Regions from separate parts of the Homo sapiens genome. Here all the other regions are linked to region 2. The links come from fine-mapping of genetic effects on gene expression. A gene starts in region 2. Each other region holds a variant in brackets. All regions are shown on one strand. Distances are between the middles of the regions.

Region 1 (6,106 bases), 29 kb before region 2:
GGTATTTTCACACAAATAGCAAAAACAATCCTAAAATTCATATGGAACCATAAAAGACCCTGAAGAGTCAAGGTAATCTTGAACAAGAAGAACAAAGCTGGAGGCATCACTACATCCGATAGATTTCAAAATAGATTACAAAGCTGCAGTAATCAAAACAGCACGGCACTGGCATAAAAATAGACACATCAACCAATGGAACAGAATACAGAACCAAGAACCCATACAGAACCCATGCATTTATGGTCATTGGATTTTCAATAAAGATGCCAAGAACACACAATGGGGAAAAGACAGTTCAATAAATGGTGATGAGAAACTGGATAGCCACATGCAAAAGAATGAAATTGAATTCCTATTGCATACATATACGAAAGTCAACTCAAAATGGATTAAAGACTTAAACATGAGACACAAAACTAAAAACACAGAAAAGAAAAGCAAAAAATAGAAAAATATGATTACATCAAACTCAAAAGCTTCTGCACAGCAAAGGAAACAACAGAGTGAAGAGACTATCCACAGAGTGGGATAAAATATTTTCAAACCTTGTATCTGGTAAGATGCTAATATCCAAAATGTATAAGGAACTCAACTCAGTAACAAGAAAACAAATAACCCAATTAAAAAATGGGCATTTCTCAAAAGAAGACATAGAAACAGCCAATAGGTATATGAAAAAACACTCAACATTACTAATCATCAGGAAAATGGAAATTGAAACCACAATGAAATATCACCTCATTGCTGGTTACTGTGGCTCAGGCCTGTAATCCCAGCACTTTGGGAGGCCGAGGTGGGTGGATCACTTGAGGTCAGGAGTTCGACACCAGCCTGACCAACATGATGAAATCCCATCTCTACTAAAATACAAAAATTATGTGGGCTTAGTGGAGGGCACTTGTAATCTCAGCTACTTGGGAGGCTGAAGTGGGAGAATCGCTTGAACCCCGGAGGCGGAGGTTGCAGTGAGCTGAGATTGCACCACTGCACTCCAGCCTGGGCAACAAGAGTGAGACTCCGTCTCAAAAAAATAAACAAACAAACAAAAATCCCCTCACACCTGTCAGAACTGCTATTATCAAAAGGACAAAAAATAACAAGTGTTGGAAAGGATGTGGCAAAAAGGGAATCCTTGGACACTGTTGGTGGCATAAATTGAAACAGCCATTATGGAAAACAGCATGGAGGTTTCTCAAAACTACCCTATAACTCAGCAAGCTTACTTCTGGGTATATATCCAAATGAAATCAAATCAGTATGGGGGAAAAAAAATCTGCATTCTTATGTTCATTGCAGCATCATTCATGATAGCCAAGATATGGAATCAATGGATAAATTGATAAAGAAAATGTGATGTGTGGGCATATATATGTATACACACACACATACACATATACACACACATAATGGAATGTGTGTGTATATATACAAATACACAAACACTGGAATATTAAGACTTAAAAATGAAGAAAATCCTGTTATTTTCAACAACATAGATGAAGCTGGAGGACATATGTGAAATAAGCCAGGCACAGAAAGACAGATACTGCAGTGATCTCACTTATATATGAACTCTAAAACGTTGAACTCATAGAAGAAGAGAGTAGAATGGAGGTCACCAGGGGTTGGGGGACGGAGGAAAGAAGATATTGGTCAAAGGGTACAAAGTTCTAGTTACTCAGAATAAAAAATTTCTGGAGATCTAATATACAGCATTATATATTAATAGTATGTACTGCCATGTAAGTACATACCATTAATGGTAATACCAGTACAGAACGTATACCATAGTAACTATAGTTTATAATACTGTATTGTATACTTGGAATTTATTATGGGAGTAGATCTTAATGTTCTTACCACATACACACATATACAAATTGGTAACTATGTGATGTGATAGATACATTAATTGGCTTGATTATGGTAATCATTTCACAATGTATACACATATATCAAAATACCTAACTGTATACTGTAAATACATATAATTTTTCTTTTTGAGACAAAGTTTTCACTCTTGTCGCCCAGGCTGGAGTGCAATGGCGCGATCTTGGCTCACTGCAACCTCTGCCTCTTAGGTTTAAGTGCTTCTCTTGCCTCAGCCTCCCAGGTAGCTGGGATTACAGGCATGCACCACCACGCCTGGCCAATATATATAATTTTTATTTGCCAAATATACCTCAATAAAGCTAGGGAAAAAGCTGGAATGAATTGTTTAAAAAACTTTCAGAGAAGGATGAAAGTGATGACAGAAAATAATAAGTCATAGGGAAGAAAAATTGATGTAAGAAATAAAATGAATGTCAAATATGAATTCTGGAAGGAAAATATGGCAATGATATAGAACCCTAATAAAACAAATTTCCAGGGTTGATGAAAACTCTTAGTATTCAGATGGTTCCCTTTTTGCTGAGCAATATATATGAGGAAAGAGGTTTTTGTTTTGTTTTGTGTTTGCCTCAGCCTCCCAAGTAACTGGGATTACAGGCATGAGACACCATGCCTGGCTAATTTTTGTATTTTTAGTAGAGATGGGGTTTCATCACCTTGGCCAGGCTGGTCTTGAACTCCTGACCGTGTGATCCACCCACCTGGGCCTCCCAAAGTGCTGGGATTACAGGCGTGAGCCACCGCTCCCAGCCTATTACTTTTTTTTTTTGAGACAGTTTTGCTCTTGTTGCCCAGACTGGAGTGCAATGGCTTGATCTCGGCTCACCACAACCTCTGCCTTCCAGGTTCAAGCGATTCTCCTGCCTCAGCCTCCTGAGTAGCTGGGATTACAGGCATGCGCCACCACGCCCGGCTAATTTTTTGTATTTTTAGTAAAGACGGGGTTTCACCATGTTGGCCAGGCTGGTCTCGAACCCCAACCTCAGGTGATCCACCCGCCTCGGCCTCCCAAAGTGCTGGGATTACAGTCGTGAGCCACCGCGCCTGGCCACCTATTA[CT/C]TTTTTTTTTTTTTTTTGAGACAGAACCTTGCTCTGTTGCCCAGGTGAGAGTACAGTGGCGTGATCTCAGCTCACTGCAACTTCCACCTCCTGGGTTCAAGAGATCCTCCTGCCTCTCAGCCTCCCAAGTAGCTGAGATCATACGCAGCTATTTTTTTTGTATTTTTAGTAAAGACGAGGTTTCAACACGTTGGCCAGGCTGATCTCGAACTCCTGACCTCAAGTGATCTGCCCACCTTGACCTCCCAAAGTGCTGGGATTACAGGCATAAGCCACTGTGCCTGGCTTTCATAGGATTTAAAGAAAGACCTAGGGTCTCATAGAATAATATTCAGAATGCCTTAGGATACCATCCAAAATCACTCAACATATGAAGAATGAAGAAAATTTTAACTTACATGGCAAAAGACAACAGACACCAAAATAAAGGTGACTCATGTTGGAATTATCAGATAATGACTTTAAAGCAGCTATTTTAAAAATGCTTGAATAAGGAATCATGCACACTCTGCAAACCAATATAAAAATAGAAAGTTTCAGCAAAAGAATAGAATATATAAAGAAGAATAAACAAGTTTTAGAACTGAAAAGTGCAGTAGCCGAAATAAAAACCACTGGCTAGGCTCAACAGCAGAATGGAGGTAATAAAGTCAATAAACTTGAAGATAGTTCAAAAGAAATTAGCTAATATGAATAGCAGCGAAAAAAAGATGGAAAATGCAAAAAGAACATAGCCTCTGGGAATGTAGAACAAGAAAAGATTTAACATTTGTGTCATCAGGGTTTCAGAAGGAGAAGAGATAGTATAGGACTCAAAAAAGATTTGAAGAAATAATGGCTGAAAACTTACAAATTTTGTGAAAGATAAAACAAGCAAAGCCATTTTGAGAAGCTCAGCCACCCCAAATAGGATAAACCCAAAGAAATCCATACTCAGACACATCATAATCAAACTGCTGAAAATCAAAGACAAAATAAATAGTGAAAGAACTGTAAAAAAATATATATTACTTCTGGGTGAACAATGATTTGAATGACTGGATTGCTCTTCATAAACTCTGGAGGCCAGAAAAAAATTGGAACAATAATTTATTGTGCTGAAAAAAAGAGTTGTGAATCCAGAATTTTGTATCTACCAAAAATATCCTTCAGTAATGAAGGTGAGATTAAGAAAAGTAATACTGCAAATGTACATTGCAGCTCAGGCTGTGCCCTCAGAGTCTGTGTGAGAGTAGGCAATAGTGGGGACAGTGGTTAGTAAAAGAGCTTGTACCCCTTCTCAAAGGGGTTAAGTGCTTGTTAAATCCAGGAGACAGCTGTCATGTGAGAATGAAGGTCCAGTGCTGCTTTCCAGCTCTCCAAGGAAAACTAGAAATCCAGATTTCTATATTAAATCCCCTGATAGCTTGAGGCTGGTAACTAATTCAGAACATTAGAGAACTGTAGGGGCAGCACCAAACACAAACATGTGTAGGATACACCCTGAGTTACTAGGTTGTTACTTCAATGGAGTTTTCTGTTTCTTTGAACTTCAGAAATTATACCAAGATACATCTAATTAAAACTCTTGGCTGGACGCAGTGGCTTACGCCTGTGATCCCAGCACTTTGGGAGTCCGAGGCAGGTGGATCACCTGAGGTCAAGAGTTTGAGACCTGGCCAACACGGTAAAACCTCATCTCTACTAAAAATACAAAAAAAATTAGTTAGGCTTAGTGGCGTGCACCTGTAGTCCCAGCTACTCAGGGAGGCTGAGGCAGGAGAATCCCCTGAACCCAGGAGGCAGAGGTTGCAGTGAGCCAAGATCACGCCACTGCACTCCAGCCTGGGCGACAGAGCGAGACTCTGTCTCAGAAAAAATAAAATAAAATAAAATAAAAAAATAAAATAAATCCTATGGAGATGGTTCATATTTTGTTTTAACAGGTATTGACCATGTTGGGTACAGGCTGCAAGTTCCAACAAGGCTTGTGTGGACTGTGATTCCAGTGTCAGTTTTCAAGGCCTTTGCAGTGTTATTTGGATTTGTCCTGTGTGTACACCACCCAATCCAATCTGAACTTACACTTTAGTTCTTAAAGTCTTTGATATGTTATTTAGGGACAGATCCACATATATTCGGGCAAAAATGAGCCTAAGAGTTCATAAAAACTGAGTTTTTTGAACTTTGGGTTTTTTTTTTTTTTTGGAGATGGAGTTTACTCTTGTTGCCCAGGTTGGAGTGCAATGGCATGATCTCGGCTCACCCCAACCTCTGCCTCCCGGGTTCAAGCAATTCTCCTGCCTCAGCCTCCCGAGTAGCTGGGATTAGAGGCATGCACCACCACGCTTGGCTAATTTTGTATTTTTAGTAGAGATGGGGTTTCTCCATGTTGGTCAGGCTGGTCTTGAACTCCCGACTTCAGGTGATCCACCCACCTCGGCCTCCCAAAGTGCTGGGATTACAGACATGAGCCACCATGCCGGGGCCAACTTTGGGTTTTTTGAACTTGAACATAGGTTGCTTTTTTGAACTTGTTCCTTTCTGGGATCTTCTTAATACTTTCTAGTTCCCTGGAGCTCCCCTATTCAGTTCTCTAGTCCTAACGCTGGGGCTTTAGTTACCTCCCTCTGCTATGTATTTTCTGCAACTATGCCTGGGTATGGCAGGAGGAAACAGAGAAAAAAAGTAATAGGGGTTCACTCCACGGCAACTCTAACAGGAAAAGAAGGTTCCTATTCCTTGTAGTTTTAGATACCTGCAGGCCCCCACTGCTTCCACTATTGCTGCTGCTGCTGTGAGATTGTCTGGAGGCTGGGACATGCAAAAACAGGGGGGAAAATATAGACATATATTTGTGTATATATACATATATGTATATATGTACATATGTATGTGCATATACACACAAGCAAGAGATTGCCCCAATCTCTCTTGGTGTTAAGAATCCCATTTCCTCCCATCCTGGCTAACGCGGTGAAACCCCGCCTCTACTAAAAATACAAAAAATTAGCCAGGCGTGGTGGGGGGTGCCTGTAATCCAAGCTACTCGAGAGGCTGAGGTAGGAGCATCGCTTGAACCCAGGAGGCGGAGGTTGCAGTGAGCCGAGACTGTGCCACTGCACTCCAGCCTGGGTGACACAGCGAGACTCTGTCTCAAAAAAAAAAAAAA
Region 2 (6,106 bases):
CACTCAAAGATGGAAGGAGACTAATGAAACAATACAATTCAATGCAGGACCTTGGATTGGATCCTGAAACAGTAAGAAAATTTAGCAAAATTTGAAAAAGGGCTCTAACTTAATTAAAAGTCTTCTATCAGCATAAATTTCCTGGTTTTCATCATTGCACTGTGGGCACCTGCAGAGTATCTGCAAATTCCTTATACTATGTTCACAACATGAAAATAAAATTTTAGGCCAGGCATAGTGGCTCACACCTGTAATCCCAGCACTTTGGGAGGACAAGGCAGTTGGATCACCTGAGATCAGGAGTTTGAGACCAGCCTGACCAATATTGTGAAACCCTGTGTCTACTAAAAATACAAAATTAGCTGGCCGTGGTGGCGCAAGCCTGTAATCCTGGCTACATGGGAGGCTGAGGCAGGAGGATTGCTTGAACCTGGGAGGTGGAGGTTGCAGTGAGCTGAGATCATGCCATTGCACTCCAGCCTGGGCAGCAAGAGCGAAACTCTGTCTCAAAAAAAAAAAAAAAAAATGAAAGAAAGAAAGAAAAGAACATTTTTAAAAAATTTACGAAGGGGAAAATGGACACAAAAAAGAAGATATACAAATGGCCAGTAAACATACAAAAAGGTGCTGAACATCATTTCACATCAAGGAAATACAAATTAAAACTATGATGAGGCTGGGTGCAGTGGCTCACACTTATAATCCCAGGATTTTGGGAGGCTGAGGCGGGCGGGAGTTTCACATGGTGAAACTCTGTCTCCACTAAAAATACAAAAATTAGCTGGGTGTGGTGGCACGCACCTGTAATCCCAGCTACTCGGGAGGCTGAGGCAGGAGAATGGCGTGAACCCGGGAGGCGGAGCTTGCAGTGAGCCGAGATTGCGCCACTGCACTCCCGCCTGGGCCACAGAGCGAGACTCCGTCTCAAAAAAAAAAAAAAAAACAAACCAAAACAAGACAAAACAAACCAAAACAAAAACCTATGATGAAACTGCACCACACAACCAATAAAATAGTTAAAAGACTAACCATACCAAATTACGGAGAGGATATGAAGCAACTGGAACTCTCATACATTGCTGGATGGAGTGTAAACTGGAACAACCACATGAGAGCTTCGTAGTATCTATTAAACATTAGCCTACCCTATGATCTAGCAATGCCACTCCTAAGTATTAACCCGGGAGAAAAGCCTTCATGTGTTCACCAAAAACACAGCAGAGTGTTCACAGCTGCAGCATCATTTGTAACAGCCCCAAATTGGAAGCTACCCAAATATCCATCAACAATGTAATCGACTAATATACTACAATATATCCCCAGTATAGTGAGAGCTAAGTACAATTACACTGAACAACATGAATGAATTTCACAAACATAATATATAACAAAAGAAGCCTGGCATAAAACAGTACATGCTGCATAATTGCATATATACATGAAGTTCAAGAATGTGTAAGACAGCCAGATGCACTGGCTCATGCCTGTAATCCCAGCACTTTGGGAGGCCAAGGTGGGCGGATCACCTGAGGTCAGGACTAGCTTTGCCAACATGGGGAAACCCTGTCTCTACTAAAAATACAAAAATTAGCCGGGTGTGATGGGTGCCTGTAATCCCAGCTACTCAGGAGGCTGAGGCAGGAGAATCGTTTGAACCCAGGAGGCGGAGGTTGCAGTGAGCCAAGATTGCATCACTGCACTCCAGCCTGGGTGACAAGAGCAAGACTCTGTCTCAAAAAAAAAAAAAAAAAAAAAAAAAAGAATGGGTAAAACTAGTTAATGATAGAATTCTGAATAGATTGTGTGGGGGAGAAATTACTGAGAAGTGGTATGAGGGAAGCATCTCAGGTCCTGGCAAAGTTCTTTGTATAGATCTAAGAGTGTTACACAGCTGTACACTTAAGATTTGCACACTTTATATAGGCTCTATGTATCTATTGACAGCCTCCTGCTCTGTTGCCCAGGCTGAAGGGCAGTGGTATGATCATGGCTTCCTGCAGCTGCAAAGCACTGGGCTCAAGCGATCCTCTCATCTCAACCTCCTGAGTAGCTAGGACTTATAGGTGCCAGCCACCATGCCCGGCTAATTTTTTATGTATGTATGTATTTATGGTAGAGTTAGGGTCTCACTATGTTGCCCAGGCTGGTCTCCAGCTCCTGGCCTCAAGTGATCCTCTCACCTTGGCCTGGCAAAGTGCTGGGATTACACGCATGAGCCTCCACACTTGGCCTACAAAAATTTTTTTAACTCTTGGAACTATGCTTTGGTAGGGATATGGAGCAATAAGATATTTCAAACATTGCTGTTCAAGTACAAATTTGTGCAGCCACTCGGGTATATATTTTGACACTGTTTAGTAAAGTGGAAGATATATGAACCGGCAATTCTGCTGGTAAATAAACTCAAGCATGTGTACCCCATGTGAAAGAATGTGGCTGTGTTGTTTATAAAATGAAAAGCTATAAATAACTAATAGGGCATCATTACTAGAAAGGATGAATAATTGTGGTATACTTCAGAAGGGAGAATATAGCAAAGAAATTGAATTAACCGCGATTTTATCTAATAGGGATGATTCACAGAATTGTAAAAATAAACCAAAGACAGTATGACAACATTCATATAAAGTTTTAAAACGGGGAAAAACTGGAGTATAATGCCTAGAGAAGTATACGTAAGTGATAAAACCTCACACTGTGTGACTTACCCTGCCACACAAACCTGATCACACTCCCACCATGGGGACATTCAGCTACAGACAATCCACGCCCAAAGCAACAGGGTCGCACACGCAGGGCCTCTATCGGTCACATAAGCACAAGTGCACGCTTACCGAGGAGGCAGTCACAGTCACAACCACATTGTCACAGTCGGCGCACACCTGTACCGGGTCACAGTCACGATCACACATTAACCACAGCCACACACACAGATAGAAACATGCAGTTACTCGCAGGTATCCCCACCTGAACTCTGCCGCACACAGTCACACAGCATATAGTCGCACACCACTACGGGGACAAACGCAGTAACACTCAACCAGGCACAAGCTCCCCACAGCCGCACACACAATGCCGCACGTGGTCCTGCTCCCTCTCACACACACACCAGCAGCCACAGTCTCCGAGGCCGTGCTGCACACGGTGTGAGCGTTGGAAACACACTCATCACAAGGGCAGCCTGTCACAATCGCGCGATCATTCACCACACACCTCCACACAGACGCAAGCGCACGCTTTCAATCTCACCTCCACCGCCGCACAAAGCCGAGGCTTGGCCCCCGGCCCCGCCCTCTCCCGGGTTTCTCACCTCAGGCCTTACCAGCTTTCGAAGCAGCAGAACCCTCCCCGGCACTGGGGTAGTTGCTGGTAAAGCCCTGAGGGTCCCGCCAGCGCGTGAGTTGGAAGCTGAATTACCGCGAGAAGTACAGTCTTGCCGAGGAGACCTCTGGGAAGCGTAGTCAGAGACGTATCAAGGCCGGACAAGATGGTTCCCGATCGTCAGAATTCCTGTCCGCGCCTTGCGTCAGCCCCGCCGAAAGGATCGCCCCCCCTAGTCAAACCGCTCGCGCCCCAGAGGCCTCATGGAGTCCCGCCTCAGGCTCGGGCCTTGGCCCCCAAAGAAAGCCACTCCGACGTGTTTGAGATGGGCTTAGTTCCCGGACCCGTCCTACTGCCCCCAGGCGCTGGACAGCCTCAGAAAGAGGACAAGTCTGCATGGAAAGATAATCGCACAACTGAGCCTTCTGGGAGATGTAGTTCGGAGCTGGGAAGGCGGTTGGACCCTCCGAAAGTCATCTTAATTGCTCTCACAGATAAGCCGGTGCTGGGCTGCCGGCCTGAGTACTGTGCGCCCAGAGTGCGCAGGCGCAAACATCCTGGGTTGCTGTTTTGGCCTCTTTGTTCGGGCGTGAATTTTGTTTATTGCTCCTTAGTGCAGAGGGGTTATGGGACCAGAGGTTGTGAGACTCAGAAGTGGTTGGGGACGCAGAAGGGGTGTAGACCAGGAACCTGCGACCTGATGGGGGGAGGTCGAAGGGAAAGGAATCGCCAAACGTGGGACAGGTTTGGAGAGGCAGAAAGAGAGGAGTCTGAAATTGCAAAGGGCAGGTGTTATTCTGACTTCTGTGTGCTTTGTGATAAATGAGTGGGGCAGGAAGTAAGAGGAGTTTCACTTTCTCCTTCTGCAATTATTTGTGTACTTGGACTAAGTGTATCTCATGGCCAGTATTTGACTGCTTTTGACCTATAAAGGTATTGTATACACAGTCATGCATAGTTTAATAATAAGGATATATGCTCTCCCCACGGTCTCCCTCTCCCTCTCTTTCCACGGTCTCCCTCTGATGCCGAGCCAAAGCTGGACTGTACTGCTGCCCTCTCGGCTCACTGCAACCTCCCTGCCTGATTCTCCTGCCTCAGCCTGCCGAGTGCCTGCGATTGCAGGCGCGCGCCGCCACGCCTGACTGGTTTTCGTATTTTTTTGGTCTCCACCAAACACAGGGTTTCGCTGTGTTGGCCGGGCTGGTCTCCAGCTCCTAACCGCGAGTGGTCCGCCAGCCTCGGCCTCCCGAGGTGCCGGGATTGCAGACGGAGTCTTGTTCACTCAGTGCTCAATGGTGCCCAGGCTGGAGTGCAGTGGCGTGATCTCGGCTCGCTACAACCTCCTCCCAGCCGCCTGCTTTGGCCCCCCAAAGAGCCGAGATTGCAGCCTCTGCCCCGCCGCCACCCCATCTGGGAAGTGAGGAGCTTCTCTGCCTGGCCGCCCATCGTCTGGGATGTGAGGAGCCCCTCTGCCTGGCTGCCCAGTCTGGAAAGTGAGGAGCGTCTCTGCCAGGCCGCCCATCGTCTGGGATGTGGGGAGCGCCTCTGCCCCGCCGCCCCGTCTGGGATGTGAGGAACGCCTCTGCCTGGCCGCGACCCCGTCTGGGAGGTGAGGAGCGTCTCTGCCCGGCCGCCCCGTCTGAGAAGTGAGACCCTCTGCCTGGCAACCGCCCCGTCTGAGAAGTGAGGAGCCCCTCCGCCCGGCAGCCGCCCCGTCTGAGAAGTGAGGAGCCCCTCCGTCCGGCAGCCACCCCGTCTGGGAAGTGAGGAGCGTCTCCGCCCGGCAGCCACCCCATCCGGGAGGGAGGTGGGGGTCACCCCCGCCAGGCCAGCCGCCCCGTCCGGGAGGGAGGTGGGGGGGTCAGCCCCCCGCCCGGCCAGCCGCCCCGTTCGGGAGGGAGGTGGGGGGGTCAGTCCCCCGCCCGGCCAGCCGCCCCGTCCGGGAGGCGAGGGGCGCCTCTGCCTGGCCACCCCTACTGGGAATTGAGGAGCCCCTCTGCCCGGCCAGCCGCCCCGTCCGGGAGGGAGGTGGGGGGGGGTCAGCCCCCCGCCCGGCCAGCCTCTCCGTCCGGGAGGTGAGGGGCGCCTCTGCCCGGCCGCCCCTACTGGGAAGTGAGGAGCCCCTCTGCCTGGCCACGACCCCATCTGGGAGGTGTACCCAACAGCTCATTGAGAACGGGCCATGATGACAATGGCGGTGTTGTGGAATAGAAAGGCGGGAAAGGTGGGGAAAAGATTGAGAAATCGGATGGTTGCCGTGTCTGTGTAGAAAGACGTAGATATGGGAGTCTTTTCATTTTGTTCTGTACTAAGAAAAATTCTTCTGCCTTGGGATCCTGTTGATCTGTGACCTTACCCCCAACCCTGTGCTCTCTGAAACATGTGCTGTGTCCACTCAGGGTTAAATGGATTAAGGGCGGTGCAAGATGTGCTTTGTTAAACAGATGCTTGAAGGCAGCATGCTCGTTAAGAGTCATCACCACTCCCTAATCTTAAGTACCCAGGGACACAAACACTGCCGAAGGCCGCAGGGTCCTCTGCCTAGGAAAACCAGAGACCTTTGTTCACTTGTTTATCTGCTGACATTCCCTCCACTATCGTCCTATGACCCTGCCAAATCCCCCTCTGCAAGAAACACCCAAGAATGATCAATTAAAAAAAAATAAATAAATAAATAATAAGGATATATTCTGGCCGGGTGCGGTGGTTCACGCCTGAAATCCCAGCACTTTGGGAGGCTGAGGGGTTTGAGACCAGCCTGGGCAACATGGTGTAAACCCCG
Region 3 (6,106 bases), 40 kb before region 2:
GCATGAAGAAATATATGGGTAATATACACAACCTTTAAATATTATTCAGAAGAAAATTGACAGAGGGGAGGGAATGAGGAACGGAGAAGGGCAAAGATAATCATTTTTTCTTTCTTTTTTTTTTTTTTTTTTGAGACAGATTTTTTGAGACTCTGTCATGCAGGCTGGAGTGCAGTCAGGATCTCAGCTCACTGCAACCTCCGCCTCCCGGGTTCAAGCGATTCTCCTGCCTCAGCCTTCCGAGCAGCTGGGACTACAGGCACATGCCACCACGCCCAGCTAATTTTTGTATTTTTAGTAGAGATGGGGTTTCACTATATTGGCCAGGCTGCCCCCTGCCTTGGCCTCCCAAAGCACTGGGATTACAGGCGTAAGCCACTGTGCCCAGCCCCTTTTCTTTCTCTTTAATGGTATTGTTTCATTAATTTGGGTGCAAATGCACTATCTCTATAATTTTAGATGAAGAACTTTATAAAAGACATAAGCACACAAGAAAAGAAAGTAAACAAAATCTCATTTGGCAGTTTTCATTTTGATAACGCAAAACATTACAACAGTCCATTTTTAGTAATTCTCTCATTTGCAGGTATTTTTGCTCACTCTACTTTTCTCAAATTTATTATGAAATATTTTACTTCCTTATGCCAGTAAAGTAAAGTAACACAATGTTCAGAGAGACCCGTCTACACAGGATCTAAGAAAAAAGGAAGTGGGGCATAAAATAACAGTTCTACAGACATAAACTTCATCCTTCCACATATGCGATCTGTCCAGCGTGGGGAGCTGCTTGCTGAGCATGTTTTGAGCACAGGGAAGGCCCATTTCAAAACACTAACTTAACCCCAAACAAAGCTACACTGTGGACTTTTTTTTTTTTTTTTTAATAGTCTCATTCTGTCGCTCAGGCTGAAGTGCCATGGCGTGATCTTGGCTCACTGCAACCTCCACCTCCTGCATTCAAGTGATTCTCCTGCCTCAGCCTCCCCAGTAGCTGGGATTACAGGCATGTGCCACCATGCCTGGCTAAGTTTTGTATTTTTGAGTAAAAATGGGGTTTCAACATGTTGGCCAGGCTGGTCTCAAGCTCCTGGCCTCAAATGATCCTTCCATCTCAGCCTCCCAAAGTGCTGGGATTACAGGCGTGAGCCAAGATGTGTACTTCTATATAACTGAAATAGTTCCTTGAACATTTGATAAAGTTTTCCTTAGAAAGAAACTGGATTTGGTGCTTCATTAGTAATAGTTAACTGATCACATGCTAATTTTTCCCTGTTCTCTGTGTTTATGAGAGTCTTTGAAGAGTCCTAATTTTCTTGGAGTCAATATTGATGTATATTTTCCTTAAAAACCATTTTGTTTAAATTTTCAAACATATTAGAAAAAAGCATAATATTCAACAGAACCTTTTAAATCTGTAACTATGTTTCTATCTCTGTCCATTTTTTAAATATGATGCTGTTTCTCTTTTCATACTTTTTTTCCTCATTAGTGCACCAATATTTTGCTTATGTTCTCTTTTCTTTTTTACTGGGTATATAATGCGACAAAAAGAGTATTAGTCGGAATAAAGTCCTTCACACACATTATTCACAGTACTTTCCCCCCCAACACCTAGGATTATTTCATGTTCAATAGTAAGTACATGATGATGGGAAATTTTCTTAACTTGTTACCTTCAAAGGGTCTTTCTTCAGTCAAACACCCTGCCTAATGGTGACTAAGTTCTGCAGAAGTTAAAAAGCCTTTCTACAAATAATAATACTGATGATGATGAATATAATAACGATGACTAACATTCAGTGAGTATGTATTTATCATGTCAGGCACAATTCTAAGCACTTTATCGATCTTAATTCATTTAATCCTCACAAAGCATTATGAGGTAGGTATTATAATTATCCCCCATTTTATAATTTTTACTGAGACACGCATGTATATATGAACAGAAAAATGATCAGCAATAAATAATGAACTGATAAAGACTATCCTTTGGGATATGGTCAAAGGGTACATTTGCCTTTTTGTAATGTTTGCATCTTTTATAAGGAAAATATATTCACACATTACTTCTGCAATTAAAAGATATGATACAAAGATGTGCTTAGGGAGAATGTCCAGCAGGGACTTGTATTTTGGCATGTATTATGGCAAAATATCTAGAGGAGACTACGATATCCACCAATAGGATTTCATAAGTGATATTACAGTAACACAACAAAACACCATGAAGATAATGAAGAATCTCTATTGAGTAAAATGTCGTTCATGAACATTTTTACAATAAGAAAGCCTTAATGTTATAAAGAACAAAAAGAATAAGCCATCTTCAAAAATAAAGAGGTCACTTCTCCCAGGTACTAAAGGTATTTTTAAAATAGTATACAAATCAGGATGTAAACAGATGAAATTTATAGCCATATAAATTTAATATGGATTAAAATACTAAGAATGTAACAATTAGAGAAATTAGGGGAAAAAATGACAATCACAGGACTACATTTCTACAAAAATTCTCTGACGTTAAGAAGGTTAGAAAGGTGTTAAAAGTGCTGTCATTTTCAGTATGACAGACTGAATTATCTATCATATTGCTAGACTGAATTATCTGATGTCAAGAGAAGTAAGCGTTTAGTTAAGGGCTTCCAAAGTATATTCTATTCATAGAGTATTTCTCCAACATTATTTTTCCCAGGCTGAATAAGCTGTAGTCCACAAATAAAATGTTTCTACATTATTCTATCTAGAGGAATTATTAACAAGATAAATTCTGTTTTGAGCCATAATTAAAAGCCTCCCTACACATTTCATATATTCTGTTTCATCACCAGTACAAATTTTGATGCTGAATAAGTTGTGGGTCATAATTAAAGTTCTTTCCACATTCCCTATATTCATAGGGTTTCTCACTAGTATGAATTCTATGATGACTAATAAGCTGTGAACTCTGAGAATAAGCCTTCCCACATATCTTACATTCATAGGGTTTCTCCCCAGTATGAATTCTCTGATGTCTAGTAAGGTCTGAGCCAGAACGAAAAGCCTTTTCACATTCCTTACATTCGTAAGGTTTCTCACCTGTATGGATTCTTTGATGTTTAATAAGTTGTGAGCTCTGACTAAAGGCATTGCCACATTCCTTACATTCATAGGGTTTTTCCCCAGTATGAATTCTCTGATGTTGAGTAAAGTTTGAGCCACTACTAAAGGCCTTCCCGCATTCTTTGCATTCATAAGGCTTCTCACCTGTGTGAATTCTCTGATGTCGAGTGAAGTTTGAACCACTACTAAAGGCTTTCCCACATTCCTTACATTCATAGGGTTTCTCACCAGTGTGAATTCTGTGATGTCGAGTAAGGTCTGAGCCACAAATAAAGGTTTTTCCACATTCCTTACATTCAAAGGGTTTCTTGCCAGTATGAATTTTCTGATGATGAGTGAGTCTTGAGGGATGTCTAAAGGACTTTCCACATTCCTTACATTCATAAGGCTTCTCAATGGTATGAATTATCTCATGTGTAGCAAACTGTGAGCCATGTCTAAAGGTTTTCCTATATTCTTTAGATGCACAGAATTTCTTTTTACTGTTAATGATTTGCTGTAATGTGAAGGATGGATGGTGACTCAAAGTGGGCAGATCTTCATGAGTGAATACCAATTGATTGAAATGTCCCCCCTGAGAGCCGAGTTCTTTCTTAAACTGCC[G/T]ATTACATTCCCAATCATCTCTGAAACTGGAGCACTGAAAATCACGTCTTGTGAGTTTTTCCATTATTTCCCACTGGGTTGATTCTATTTCATAAATTTCTTTCTTCAGAAATAATTTCTTGGTCTCACATCTTGATTCCAGGACTGAAAGAAAATATGAAAGTAATCACTCACATTTTTCTTGTTTGGGAGAAACAAAACTTCAATCAATATGGGAGAATTTAACCGAATTTTTTTTACAAATGGATGAGGAAAAAAGAGAGTTAGAAGACAGGTTACATAATAAGATGAGGGTAGTGATTAGGAAAACAAAGTAAGTCACTGGTTCCCAAACATTGCTATAGATCAGAATTACTTTGGGAAGCCTGCTAAATATACACATGCTTTAGTCCTATCTCCCTTGTTAAAGGATGACTCTAATCATACACACACAAAATATCTCATTGCATATATACACACAGACATATAATAGCATCTCATAGTATGAATTATAAAATAAGGGAAATGGCCAGGCATGGTGGCTCACATCTGTAATCCCAGCACCTTGGGCGGGTGAGGCAGGCAGATCACTTGGTCAGGAGTTTGAGATCAGCCTGGCTAACATGGTGAAACCTGTCTCTACTAAAAATATAAAAATCTAGTGGGGCATGGTGGTGTGTGCCTGTAATCCCAGCTACTGGGGAGGCCGAGGCACGAGAATTGCTTGAACCCGGGAGGCAGAGGTTGCAGTGAGCCGAGATTGCCACTGCACTCCAGCCTGGGCAACAGAGTGAGTCACTGTCTCAATAGATAGATAAATAAATAAATAAATAAATAAAGGAATGATCACACTGTTAACAGGGCTATTGTCGGATGAAATGAATATGCCTAATGGAAAATTCCCAGAGATCAGTAAACTATGGCCTATGGCCCTGCACCCATTTTTATAAATGAAGTTTTATTAGCCATACTTGTTACGTATTGTCTATGGATGCTTTTGCGCTAAAAGGGCAGAAGTGAGTAGTTATGATAGAGAATGTGTGAACTGCAAACCTAAAATACTTACTATTTGCCTTTCAAGAAAAAGTTTGCCAGCCCCTGGTTAGATATGCATCGTCTAATACAGTAGCCGCTAGCTACATGTGGCTTTTAAAATTTCAAATAATTTAAGTAAAATGTGCATTTCATTTTGAAATAAACAGCTGAATTTGAAAATTCAGTTTCTCAGTCACATTATTCACATTTCCAATGTTCAACAGCCAAATGTGGCTGGTAGCTTTTGTACTGGAAGTCTGTACGAAATATCACAAATATAAAACATTTCCATCACCACTGAATGTTCTCTTGGATAGCCCTGGTCTGGATTCTGTAACAGGAGGGCCAGAGCACTTTAAAAAATGATAAGGAACTAGAGGGTGACAATCCAGAAAAAAGCCTAGCTTAAGAAAAGTCAAGTGTGGAATGAACATAGTATGAGTGGTAGATAGGACTCATTTGTGGACAGATATGGTATATGTTTGGGGTTTGATGAAAATAGTGTTTGTCGTGTAATTCTGAGATGCTGACCTTTGTTAAAGAGAAGAGGGGACTTAACAAGTACATGATCACTATAGTAGTAATGACTGACTGGCAGAAAAGACATTTGTAGGTTCAAGAGAAGGGGAGAGAGTAAAATGGAAGGCAGTGTATGGTACTGACAGATCAGAGATACTAGATTCAGTTACATGCGTTTTATACTCAAACTTGAATAATTATAAGCTTTGTTTTCTTGGGCAAATTAGTTCAACCTTCCAAACCTGCAGTTCTCTGTCTAATACAATAGGAATGATAGCCCTTACAACTGTTGTGAGGATTGGGATTAATGTTTGTAAATACTATGGAAGAATTTCTGCCAGGCACAGTGGCTCACGCCTGTAATCCCAGCACTCTGCGGGGCCGAGGCGGGCCGATCACGAGGTCAGGAGTTTGAGACCAGCCTGACCAACATGGTGAAACCCTATCTCTACTAAAAATACAAAAATTAGCCGGGTGTGGTAGCACATGCACTGTAATCCCAGCTACTCAGGAGGCTGAGGCAGAAGAATTGCTTGAACCCAGGAGGTGGAGATTGCAGTGAGCCAAGATCACACCACTGCACTCCAGCCTAGGGAACAGAGCGAGACTCCATCTCAAAAAAAACAAACAAACAACAAAAAAAAGAATTTCCATACAAAAATGGGGACATTAGGCCCGACCCCTTGACTCGTTAAAAAAAAAAAAGGGAGAATAGTTAGAAGACTTGAAAGTCACTGACTCTTAGACAAGGAAATGGAGGGGTAAGGAAGGTACAGCTTTGTAAACTATTATAATATACATGTAATACAAATAAATTTTTACAAGAAATAATTTGGTCTGGTTACAGAGGGACAGGATCTCATCTAGTATT

Which allele goes with the higher level. Alleles are on the strand shown, and positions count from the first base shown. SD is a standard deviation of normalised expression in the study named. Not every link is listed here.
As copies of C replace CT in region 1, the expression in Th1/17 cells of the gene that starts at base 3,398 in region 2 goes up (large effect, 1.0 SD a copy in Schmiedel 2018).

The links.
Region 1: its variant is fine-mapped to the expression of ZNF566 in Th1/17 cells (Schmiedel 2018, PIP 0.95).
Region 3: its variant is fine-mapped to the expression of ZNF566 in whole blood (INTERVAL, PIP above 0.99).

The regions. Positions count from the first base shown.
Region 1 is chr19:36,456,865-36,462,970 of GRCh38, forward strand. The region is part of intron 4 of ZNF566 (zinc finger protein 566); the gene reads right to left. Among named protein-coding and RNA genes, the nearest start is that of ZNF566, 30 kb to the right of the region's middle. The variant CT/C (reference allele first, on the strand shown) is at 2,955.
Region 2 is chr19:36,486,164-36,492,269 of GRCh38, forward strand. It overlaps ZNF566 (zinc finger protein 566), which reads right to left and starts at 3,398. Exons shown (of 5, transcript NM_001145344.1): 1 at 3,323-3,398. ZNF566-AS1 (ZNF566 antisense RNA 1) reads left to right here and starts at 3,464. Exons shown (of 1, transcript NR_036504.1): 1 at 3,464-4,877. RefSeq lists enhancers at 2,494-3,381, 2,688-2,767, 3,328-3,887, 3,382-4,267.
Region 3 is chr19:36,446,156-36,452,261 of GRCh38, forward strand. It overlaps ZNF566 (zinc finger protein 566), which reads right to left. Exons shown (of 5, transcript NM_001145344.1): 5 at 1-3,846. The coding sequence ends at 2,822. Among named protein-coding and RNA genes, the nearest start is that of ZFP82, 31 kb to the left of the region's middle. RefSeq lists an enhancer at 2,896-4,095. The variant G/T (reference allele first, on the strand shown) is at 3,703.